Homo sapiens: one gene and its partner. The protein of the gene in region 2 interacts with the protein of the main gene of each other region in a biochemical or structural test. Each region holds a gene or a part of one and is shown on either strand. Other genes may lie near its edges.

Evidence for each region.
Region 1: the proteins of ITGAX (region 2) and MIA3 form a complex in vitro, tested with the Homo sapiens proteins (one study listed by BioGRID).

Annotation. Positions count from the first base shown.
Region 1 is NC_000001.11:222,649,051-222,656,341, reverse strand, and holds part of MIA3 (transport and Golgi organization protein 1 homolog isoform 1 precursor), read right to left. Parts: intron 6,051-7,291; coding exon 5,962-6,050; intron 5,709-5,961; coding exon 5,631-5,708; intron 5,550-5,630; coding exon 5,439-5,549; intron 4,366-5,438; coding exon 4,294-4,365; intron 4,115-4,293; coding exon 4,010-4,114; intron 3,335-4,009; coding exon 3,212-3,334; intron 3,115-3,211; coding exon 3,003-3,114; intron 2,100-3,002; coding exon 2,044-2,099; intron 1,954-2,043; coding exon 1,863-1,953; intron 1,688-1,862; coding exon 1,549-1,687; intron 1-1,548.
Region 2 is NC_000016.10:31,378,958-31,383,572, reverse strand, and holds the end of ITGAX (integrin alpha-X isoform 2 precursor), read right to left. Parts: intron 4,006-4,615; coding exon 3,927-4,005; intron 3,817-3,926; coding exon 3,709-3,816; intron 3,592-3,708; coding exon 3,508-3,591; intron 3,308-3,507; coding exon 3,194-3,307; intron 3,051-3,193; coding exon 2,949-3,050; intron 2,677-2,948; coding exon 2,566-2,676; intron 1,771-2,565; coding exon 1,666-1,770; 3' UTR 1,106-1,665; coding exon of another isoform or gene 1,077-1,105; 3' UTR 574-1,076; downstream 1-573. UniProt on the Homo sapiens protein: Integrin alpha-X/beta-2 is a receptor for fibrinogen. It recognizes the sequence G-P-R in fibrinogen. It mediates cell-cell interaction during inflammatory responses. It is especially important in monocyte adhesion and chemotaxis.

The DNA of each region.
Region 1 (7,291 bases), on a different chromosome or scaffold from region 2:
AATGGAGTCAAACTAAAGACATTTTCATACAAAAGTAAACTCACTGAACCTGCATTAAAGTATATTCTTTGGCCGGGCGCGGTGGCTCACACCTGTAATCCCAGCACTTTGGGAGGCCGAGGCGGGTGGATCACGAGGTCAGGAGATTGAGACCATCCTGGCTAACACAGGTGAAACCCCATCTCTACTAAAAATACAAAAAAAATTAGCCGGGCATGGTGGCGGGCGCCTGTAGTCCCAGCTACTCGGGAGACTGAGGCAGGAGAATGGCATGAACCTGGGAGGCGGAGCTTGCAGTAAGCTGAGACCACGCCACTGCACTCCAGCCTGGGCGGCAGAGTGAGACTCTGTCTCAAAAAAAAAAAAAAAAAAAAAAAAGGGAAAGAAAGTCTGGAGATACGTGATTAGCTAGGGGACTGGCATAAAAGATGACAAGGGCCTGAATTAACACAGTGACTTTAGGGGTGGACAGTAGAGTACAAACCACACATGGAGACTGAATGAATTTTGGGGAAGTTGAATAAAACACTGCCACATCAATGGGTTAACTGTATCACGAAGAAAAACAGTTGCCATTTACGTAATTCACATTACTATTGGAGGCAGAGAAGTGCTCTTTTTTAAAAAGTAATGAAATGAGGAATGTCTCTCTGAAGCAGGACAGGCATTTATTTAGAGCTGGCCTGAACAAAACCTGGAAAATCTAAACTGGCTGCCTGGTGAGCAAAGAATTAGAGAAAAAGTTAATGGTATGGTTTCAATATTTAATGGCATACAGCAGTAGCAGTCTAAGCATTTAAAAAAGTTAAATTTGCTTAGCAAGAGAGGCCTCCTCACACACTGCCATATACACCAAAGAGTAAAACATAAGAGCAAACACAAATAGCAACTGCCACAGATAACCTATTTTTAGAGAATTCAGATGTTTTTGTGGACAAAAAACTTGAACTATAAAAATATACCTCTCAAAAGGTACCTCGCTCGAAATTTGAGATATGTATTTCAGAGGATTATTATCTAAATATACACACCAAATAGTTCTACATTCAAAACTCCTAATATCTTTGCCACAATTATGTTTAGTTTGAATATTTTACTCTGTGAAGTCCAAAACTAAATGTACCTTCAATAAGTAAATTTTCCTTTTTTGAAGTTTTTATTCTACTAAAACACGTCATACAAATCCCTCAGACTGTTTAAAGGAAATTACATAATTGACCACAAAGAAAGGAAAGTGAAACAAGTGGCGGAGCCACAGACAAGGCATGGCCAGATCTTCAAAAGAGAAGCACTCCCACAGCAGCGACCGTCAGTACCAGTACACTGCTCCCCCTTAAGTGAGTTACAGGCAACAGTTTTTGACTACTGGTTAGAAAGGAAAGAAAAATGCAGCTTATGAGAAACAAAGCAGAAAGAAAGAAAGACAAATTTATACTAATTACAGATGCAAAAGAGTACAATCCTGAAAAACGATAACATTATCTATATTAGTACACATTTATTTACTGACATGACAATACAGTTAACAGTAAATGATGATAATCTTACTTTTGCAAAGCCATCTCCTTCTGCTGATAGAGCTCATTCAGAATCTCCACTTTCTGCCTCAAGGTTTTGCATTCATCTTCCAGTCCAGCTTTGGCAGCTTGTAGTGAGTTGCGGTCATCTTCCAATTTCTTTACCTGGTCTGTAAAGGATAAAACATTTGAGTTCCATATGTGTGCACAAGAACTTGAGAACTTGGTTGGGGGCTGGTGCTGAGAGAAATGAGAAGTATGAAAGCAGGAAGCCGCTCTTTATCTTTCTAATGCAATTTTGTATCTTTCCAATATATAGCAATTTCTTCTCAAGAAGCAACCTACCTTCCAGGTTACATTTAGTGGACACGGAGGCTCTTAGCTTAAGCTGTAAAAGCTTTAGATCCTCTTCAACTACCGATATTGCAGTCTGTGTCTAAAAATTGCAGAAGAGACAAGTATTCATAAAAGTGAGGCATAGTAAAAGTATTCACAGGCAATTATGGGACTCTAAAAACGATTATACCCGAGAGACATCCATCATCTGCTTAATTTGATTTTTCATCTTCTCATTCCGGTCACCTAAAAAACAAAAGGCTTTCTTTCATTGCTTTTTCTTCCCTTGCTTTTTAAATCTATATTTTCTTGATTTACCCAAAACTAAACAATTGTCATGTTCAAACATTTAAAGAACAAACAAAAACAGAAAAGGATTAGACTGACTTTTAAGAGAACTGCAAACTTAAGACTGAAAAAGTGAATTCCCATTTGTACAATAAACATGTTATACATGCCATTATTGAGCAAGAAGAAACATGTGAGATAAAGCTCTTTCTTCCATCTGGGCTTAGTGTCTTATTCAGAAAGATTCCCTCCTATTCTCCTCCAGAATCTACTACCAGGTGTGGTTTAAAACACCCACTACACAAGCAATATCCAACTTGAGAGAGGGCATCTAGAAACATTTTCCTCATCAGTAAACACTGCAACACTATAGCCTCCACTCTCATGGCCTTAGTTTATGGATCCAACCACCTCAGTACTCTCAAAACCAGTTGTGGTTTTCTTTCATGGCCTTAGTCAGTTTATGCCTCCAACCACCTCAGTACTCTTAAAACCAGTTGTGGGCCTTAAAACCACACAGCTACTGAGATGACAAGTTTTAAAATGTTATCTCCATGAAATTGAAAAACAAGTTTCTACTACTGTATGTGTCCAATACTTAGAGGTGTAAGACATGACCAGTGCAGCTCCCGTGCACCCTTCTAGTCTCAATGTGAAAACAAAGTCAGTGTTCACTGCATGCTTACTGCTACACCTCACCCTAGCAATCCACCTCTGCCCAATGCAAACAGACACACATTCAAATCCAATGTATTTACACCTCGAAAGCTTAAGAGGAAATGCAGCCAGCTGAAAAGTAGCACTGGTGCACTTAAAGACAGGAAGGCAAAAGGGGTCCATCCTCCTTGAGGCTGATCTTACCTCCCACTTCTCCATTTGCTAATTCATCTGAATCATTTCCACCTTTATTTTGACCCTCAGATTCAGATTCACACTCTAACAGATTCAACTGTGTAATGCAGTTAGTCAAAGCCTAGAAAAGAAGTAAAAGGGCATTAAGAGTCTTTCCATTTAATTCAACAGATTTGATAATTCACAAGAATTAAGCTTGTATTCATGAACGCACTTACATTAATATTATCATCCTTGTGAGTAAGAGCTACTTCCAAATCTTTCTGAGACTTCTCAAATGATTTGATTTGCTCACTGAGCTCAGCATGTAATTTACTCCAGTCTTCGATTTCCTGCTGCAACTGCAAAGTTAAAACACATGATTCCCACAGGTTAGGGCTTTTGCACTGGAGACATTAGGACCACATGAATGAGACAGGTAAATAAGGAACCATGCCTCTCCTTGGCCTATCACTATGGGCTAAGACCTTGGTTAAGTGGGAGGAGACAGTGGCCCCAACCCTCAGAGCTGTAGTGAGAACATCAGAGCTATCAAGGAAATTGATCTTGTTTATTGCATCCTTCAGAAAATTGTAGCCAATTCAAATAATTCACTTCCAGAAGGAACAGAAGGGCTCATCCTACTATCTCCCAAGTCCACACTCCTGATCATGTAACCTTCCCTTGGCTAGTGAAGCAGTAACTACTCAAAGGAGGGTTATAAAATATCTAACTCTTGGGTCTAAAAAGCCAATCTACTACCCACTCGAGGCTACTCAAGTTAATAGCAATTGGTGTCTGACAAAACAAGACTACACACTCTGATAGCCAAAATAAATTGTACAGAACAGAAAATCCAGAACAGATAGAGAATGTATACCTACACTCAATTTTGGAAGCATAGTTTAAACTTTGCATATCTAAGAACAGAATCCTGCACATATATTACCCTAAAAATAGATCTGAGTAAAGGCATTCATGAGGTATGATACTGAGTTCTCTATTTTACATGACCTGGGACACGCACTTTCCTTTACCTGCTCTTTTTTCTTCTTAAGCCTAGCATTTTCTTCTTGAACCCGATGGCATTCAGACTTCACCTTCTCTTCACTAAGCTTAGCTTCATTAAGTGCAATCTGAACCTAATGCAAAACACTCCTATTAGTGAATTAATTCCAAAGAAAACCAGAAAAAGTTACTTTTCCAACCCAACATCATGTAGTTTTCATTTTTTGCACATTTTAGCATATATCAAATTTTTGCTCTGCAATCAAACTATGATATAGTATTAATATCCTGCAGGAATTACAGTCAGCTTTACCTCTGAAAATTCTGAGGCATTCATTGAAATAACATCCTTTAACTTCTCTATAGATTTCTTGTTTTCTGATATCTGCCATGTAAAAACAGAACACAAAATGCATATTAGGATTTTAGTAGAAACACTGGGATACATACTAAGAAGAAGAAACATCAACAAAGTATGTCCCAGAGCCATCCCCTATGTTTCAGGTAAAAGCAGGTGTTTCAGTTTTGCCCTCGGGAAAAATCAAGAACTTAAAGAGGTAAGGGAAAATAATCAAAGGCATAAATATTTCACAGCATACACAACCTTCCTGGTTAGAATAAAATGTGGTAGATGACCAGACTAAAAGGTGAAAGAAAAGAAACTGAAAAAACTTTTAAGTAAACCAGTTCAAATCAATGTGACTTTTTTTTTTCTTGTGGCAAGAGAAAAAAATAATCCCCAAGGTACTTTAATTTAGTACAATTTGACAATTGTTTTGTCAAACACCAATTGCTCTTGCCTAAATTAAAAATGGTAGGATTGGAGTGAGAATAGACAGATCACCCATATAGAATTCTAGATAATTTATGAAGATTCTGGCTCCTCAAGAGGATGGAGCATAACCCTTCACTTTTTAACTGTGGGCTGCGATAGTAACTTCCTTCCAAAGAGTACAATAATGCAAAAAGTTTAAAAAAAAAAAAAGTAATTTTACAGTGAAGAAACCTGGCAATACTACCTCAACGAGGTCATCAAGATTAATAGGGTGTGGGATTTATGGAACCCTCTCTACTATCTTTGCAACTTTTAGGTCATTCTAAAACTATTCTATTAATAAAATAAAATGTTTATAGCAAAAAAAAAAAAAAACTTTGCAAAACAAAACAAAACACAAGGACTGTTCAACTGGGTTTCTTAGTTGTTCCACATGTTTCGGAGGGCAGAGCCAAGCAATATGACAATTACCTAGGGTTGAGAACCAAAATACTTCCTAGGCCTGTAAGAATAATTTCTTGTGTAAGTACTTAAAATTCCACAAAAATGGACAGAAGTAGGTTCAACTTCCCTGACTCGCACTCTTACTTCACATAACAGCATGGAAAATAAAGAGTTCAACTCAATCTACAAAAGAGTTCAAAACCCAAATTATTAGTAATACTTAGCAGCAAAACTCTTACCAAGTCCTGATTCTTGACATTCTGTTCTCTCTCAGATTCTAGCATAACACGAAGATTTTTAGCTGTGTCATCCAGAATTTCCTGATTTTTTTCAAGTGTCTTGATTTTATCCTACAAAAAAGATATTAAGGTTAGTTATACTCATTACTTTTACTTTTGTTTTAAAATGTAATCCCCAAAAGAAGTTTTTACCTTATATTTAATTGCTTCATCAGAGAGAATCATATTTTGTTTCCTGGTTTCCTGAACATGTTTCTTTGATTCCTTGATCTATATAAAATAAAGCATTCAGAATCCAGAAATATAAAGTATAGTGCTACCAGAACTTATTTTCAAGTGACTGACCTCTTACAGAAGAAAACAGTACTTTACACATATGACTGCTTAAGATCTGGATGGTTTATAGGAATTAATGTAATAATAAATACTATTTAAAAATACCATAGTAACTGAACTATAAGATAGGTGACAAATAATTCAAGCTGGGACCATGAAAAAAAAAAAAAACAAAGAATAATCATACCTTCTGTTCATAATTTGACAATTTTTGTACAAGTTCTGTATTTTCTTTCATGATAGTCTTCAACTTCTCAGAAATTTGCTGTTCCGTGACTGAAAAAAGAAAAAAATAATAAGGTTATTATGATCACTAAATGAAATTGAATTACCCAATGTATCAGCAGCAAAGACATGTTATCTTGCACTATGACAAAAAATAACTTCTCAGCATAACTATTATGGTTTTAAAAAGTGATATGGTTTGGTTCTGTGTCTCCATCAAATCTCATAACAAATTATAGTACCCAGTGTTCAGGTGGGGCCTGGTGGAAGGTGATTGGATCATAAGGGTAGATTTCTCATGAGTGGTTTATCACCATCCCTGTGGTGCTATTCTGTGATGGTGACTGAGTTCTTGTGGAATCTGGTTTTAAAAGTGTGCAGCACCTCCCCGCTCACTCTCTCTTGCTCCTGCTCCCACCATGTAAGATGGCCTGCTCTCGCTTTGCCTTCTGCTGTGAGTAAAAGCTCCCTGAGGCCTCCTCAGAAGCAGATGCCGCTATACTTCCTATAGCCTGCAGAAACATGAGCTAATTAAACTTCTTATAAATTACCCAGTATCAGGTATTTCTTTTTTTGAGACAGGGTCTTGCTCTGTTGTCCAGGCTGGAGTTTAGTGGTGCAATCTCAGCTCACTGCAAAGTCCGCCTCCCAAGCTCAAGCAATCCTCCTGCCTCAGCCTCCTGAGTAGCTGGGACTACAGGTGTGTGCCACCACACCCAGCTAACTTTTATATTTTTTTTATAGAGATGGGGTTTCTCCATGTTGCCCAGGCTGGTCTCGAACTCCTGAGCTCAAGCAATCCTCCGCTTTGGCCTCCCAAAGTGTTGGGATTACAGGCATGAGCCACCACACCAGGCCTTGGGTATTTCTTTATAGCAGTGTGAGAACAGATTAATACAAAAAGCAATCTGCTAACAAGAATAAGGATGTAAAAATACGGTTAGAATTTAAGAAAAATATAATAAGAACCTTTATTTCAATGAGAGTTTAATTTATTTCCAAGATGGGAAATACAGTAAAATGTTATAGCTCAATATTCCTCCCTGCATGAAGCATCTTTCTTCTCAGAAAATGGCATCACTTCAAATATGTCATTTGCAAAGAGAAACAGAAAATGCAGGCGTGCTGATTTATATTTCTAGTTCTCAAATTATCTACTTAAATAAATATTTAATGTACTGACTAAATCATTAGCACAGGGACACTGGTCACATGTAATAAATTGGTACTACATCAACATTTAAGGTCAATCTGCCCCAAATTAATGATCTTCTCCCTACTCCCACAATTCG
Region 2 (4,615 bases):
CTCAACTGCCTCCCTTCTGTTTTTCTAATTGAAACATCCACACGGCCCGGGTCCCTTGCTGGTGATAGCTGCAGTGGCGTCACTCCGAGGTCAGGAATGGCTTGTCCTGTGAGGCCCCCAGCTCAGTGCCAAGCACCATGATGAACTTTATGCCAGGATGGTGGCATAATAGCAAGAATGACCTTATTGTGGGCAGCAGCTCTCAATGTGGGACCCCAACATGTTCTTCAATCACTCACTATATGCAGACAGTGTGCCCTTCAACACATCCTAGGACTTGTAGGAAACGCTTGTGAGTATTGGTCACTCCAGAGACCTTTCCAGGTGGAAAAGTAGCCACTGGAGGTTGTCCCTTCTCTATTCTATGCCCCCTCCACCCGACAGCTCCACCAGCTTACCATCGGCACCAGCCCTGAGAGTGGAGTGAGCAGATTAAGAGGTCAGGTTACTTCCAAGAGAGGGATATTCACAACCCTACTCTGGTTAACTTCTTGTCCTGGCCCCAGGCCTCAGTGCTGGCCAGGGTCCACCGTGGTAAAGGGACCCCATGGGTGTCATCCTTCAGGACTCATATCCACAGAAGGCTTTTTTATTTTTAGACCTTTGACATATTTCCCAAGAGCGGTAGATGCATCTTTTTGTGCATGTTTTAATTTATTAACACAAACATTTAAAGTACGCTTTTTAAAAAAATAATCATGTCTTGGCATTTTTTCAGGTACTATATTCATAGCCTCAAAAAATAGAAGTGGTTGGGTCTCTTCTGCCCCTGGGGCTGGGTGAGCTGCAGCCGCACCGGGGCCATGTCCCTCCCTAGAGGGCGCTCCTCCCTTCCAGCCAGCAATGTTGCCCAACGCGGGAGGCCAGCTGTGCAGAACCCAGCATGCAGGCATCTCACTCCCAATTCAGCCTGGGAAATCGGAACTGAGAGCCCCACGATGAAGCCCTGAGCTGATGCTGACATGACACTAATTCACTGGAAACGAGGGTGATGGGGGCACAGAGCCTCTCATGCTGTGCGCCCTGAAGCCCACCCTCTGGGATGGAAGGGGACTTCTCACGCGAAGCTGGAGAGTTCAGACATTGTCCTGAGGGTAATGGGGAGCTGTTGAAGACAGGTGGGGATGAGCAGCATATTCAGAACTGTATTTTAGAAAGATCGGGCCGGGCGAGGTGGCGTGTGCCTGTAGTCCCAGCTACTCAGGAGGCTGAGACAGCAGAATTACTTGAACCCGGGAGGCGGAGGTTGCAGTGAGCCGAGATCACGCCATTGCACTCCAGCCTGGGTGACAGAGCGAGACTCCGTCTCAAAAAAAAAAAAAAGAAAAGAAAAAAAAAAAAAAAGAAAGGAAAGAAAGATCATTCGTGCCTCATGGGAGAAGGGAGACTGAGGCCTGGGGGTATTGTCCATGTATTTCTAGGTAGAAATTGCAAGTCAAGTCCTTTGGGGAACACAGCAGGGACCCTGTCCTAAGGGTTTCCAGTTGGAACCTTGACAAGACAAAGGCCCCTTCCCAAGCAAGACGTTTTCTCCCAAAGACAGGAAGCAGGCCCATCCCAGCCTCTCTCGGTGGTGCAGTGGTTCCTCCCCGTCAGGCCTGACAGGTGAGGGTAAGTAAGTGGGGAAAACTCGCGGGGGAGAAGAAGTCCAAGGCAAAGAGGGGATCATTTCTCACTGGGCGGGCTGGGGGTCTGTGTCCCGTTTTCTGGGGCAATTTGTCCATTTGCCTCCTCCATCATTTCCTTGTACTGACGCTTGAAGAAGCCAACCTAGGGGGGAGGACGAAGAAGAAACTCAGGAAGCCCATTCAGTGGAAGAGAGGAAAAGAGATGACTGAGGGAGAGGGGTCACTATTTCTGAAATCCTTGCTAGGTTCAAAGCACTGCACTAGGAACTTTATATGCATCATGTCATCTAGATTTAGCCAAAATTATTTTCTTTTTGAGATGGAGTCTCACTCTGTTGCCCAGGCTGGAGTGCAGTGGCGTGATCTCGGCTCACTGCAACCTCCACCATGCCCAACTAATTTTTGTATTTTTAGTAGAGACGGGGTTTCACCAGGTAGGCCAGGCTGGTCTCTTAACTCCTGACTTCAAGTGATCCACCTGCCTCGATCTCCCAAACTGCTGGGATTACAGCCATGAGCCACCGTGCCCAGCCTAGATTTAGCCAAAATTCTATGAGCTGGGGTAGAATCACCTTCACATTGAGAAATCAAGGCCCAGAGTGGAGCAGACACTGGCCTATGGTCAAAGACAAAAAGAACCCGTGGTGATGTCGACATTCAAACCCAGGTCTGTGCTTTTATATGATAATCTGCTGTCAAGGGAAACACGTAGAATGATGGAGAAGAGCAGGAAAGAAAGGGAGAAATATTAGAGGAAGCCTGGGAATCACAAAGCAGGGGGCCACTGGGGACAGGTGACATTGCAGGTGGGAAGCAGTTTCTCATATGAAGTGACCCAGTAAGAATGTGCCTCTGCCTTCAAAGTGAGCTCCTTCTCACTCTGCAAAAAGAGCGGGACCAGATGCTGGTGGTGTCAAGAGTGGCATAAAACACTCACTTTGTACAGTACCGCTGTGATGAGTGCCAGCAGCAACAGACCCCCAATGGAGCTGCCTACGATGAGGGGGGTGGGGTTGTGGACCTTGTACTTCTCCAGCACCGTTGTCGTCTGAAGTGGAAGTGACCCTGTCAGAGCACTCCCATCCTCCTACTATCCCAGACTCCTCCCAGGCTCCCCAACCTTTAACTCCCTCCCCTCCTTCCCCAGGCCCTGCTCCAAGAGGTGAGACACAGCAGCACCCGTGCCCTTAGGGACAGCTATCCTGCCCAGAGGCCTTCGCCCTCCTCCCCCAAGGCTTGCAAACCCCCCACCCAGCACCACAGATGTAGCCCTAGGGGCCCTCTTTCCAGCCTGGTCGCTGCCCTCCACATGGTCTCTACCTGAGCTCTCATAAATGCCTCCTGTCCTGGAAGCTGGGAGTACACGGATGTGTCGAACGTAATTTCAGCCACACTCACGACCGACACCTTCTTCTGCAATATCTGCAAAGGGGTTGGGGGAAACCTGTTGAACTGGCTCTGGGGGAGGCTCAGAGCTCTGGGGGTGCCCTGGCTTGCAGATGGGCACAGACATGCCAGGTCCCGCCTGAGTCTGGGGCAGGGGCTCTGTCGTTGCACCCACACACCTGGCGGACCCAGCCAAAGCTGAGGTTGCCCTTCAGGGTGAAATCCAGCTCCTCCTGGACGCTGAAGGAGGGGACGTCACAGCGGAACCGCAGGCAGCCAGCAATGGAGCAGTCCTGGGGGCAGATAAATAGCATGGGGCTGAGAAAGATGAGTGTGAAGGTGGGAGGCAGCATTATGCGGTGTGACTTGAGGGCAGCGGCCATATCCGAATGCAAGAGGGTACTTCAGCAGGATGGATATGGAACATGAACTCCTGGGTTAAATTCCTCTGATGTGGGGCCTACAGTGAGGGCCAGCCCAGAGCCCTCCTCACCAGCACGGGATTCTTCTGAATGTGCGCCAGGAAGTCAGATGCTGGGGGTGCGATTTTCTCTGAGGAGCACCGAAGGGATGGGTTCTGGGGGAAAATGCAGAGAACAAGTGTCTCAGCTGGGACATCAGGGACCCACATGGGGCACAAGGAATCCAGGTAGAAAGGGCATTCGTGGAGGAGCCACATGCAGTCCTTGGGTACCTGGGGGTGGGAGACCTCCACATCCATCCACACAGCCTCCTGGTTCAGCTCCACAGGCACCCAGAAGTTGATGCTGACAGGCAGGTCCCTCTGTCCCAGGTTATTGACCTGCACAGAGGGCACTGAGGGCAGAGCCCACGCCAAAGCCCAAATCCCTCCCCAGTCTCCGGCTCCCAGCCTCCCACCCCAGCCCAGTCTCCTGCGTCTCCACCACCTGCCTGGTATCTGTGCATGGCCACATGGCTTTCCTTCTCCTCAGACTCTGAGAAGTTGAGGTATTTGGTGAATTGTTCGTGGCTGGAGAGAGAAGACGCATAAGTGGATGTGAACTACCATGGGGCATCTGCAGAAGGCATTGGCTAGAGCATGAGAGGACAGGTGGTCGGTGGGGCCTTGGAATGTCCTGGAATGAGGGCTGTGGCTGAGTTAGGTTATAAGAGAGTTTAGAGGCCAGGCGCGGTGGCTCAGGCCTGTAATCCCAGCACTTTGAGATGCTGAGATGGGCGGATCACCTGAGATCAGGAGTTCGAGATCACCCTGGCCAACATGGTGAAACCCTGTCTCTACTAAAAATACAAAAATTAGCCAGGCATGATGGTGTGCACCTGTAATCCCAGCTACTCAGGAGGCTGAGACAGGAGAATTGTTTGAGCCCAGGGGACAGAGGTTGCAGTGAGCCCAGATCACGCCACTGAATGACAGAGCAAGACTCTCTCTCTCTCAAAAAAAAACAGAGAGAGAGAGTTTAGAGACCAGGCACAGTGCTCACGCCTATAATCCCAGCACTTTGACAGGCTGAGACAGGCAGATCACCTGAGGTCGGGAGTTCAAGACCAGCCTGGCCAACATGGAGAAACACCATCTCTACTAAAAATACAAAAATTAGCCAGGTGTGGTGGCAGGTGCC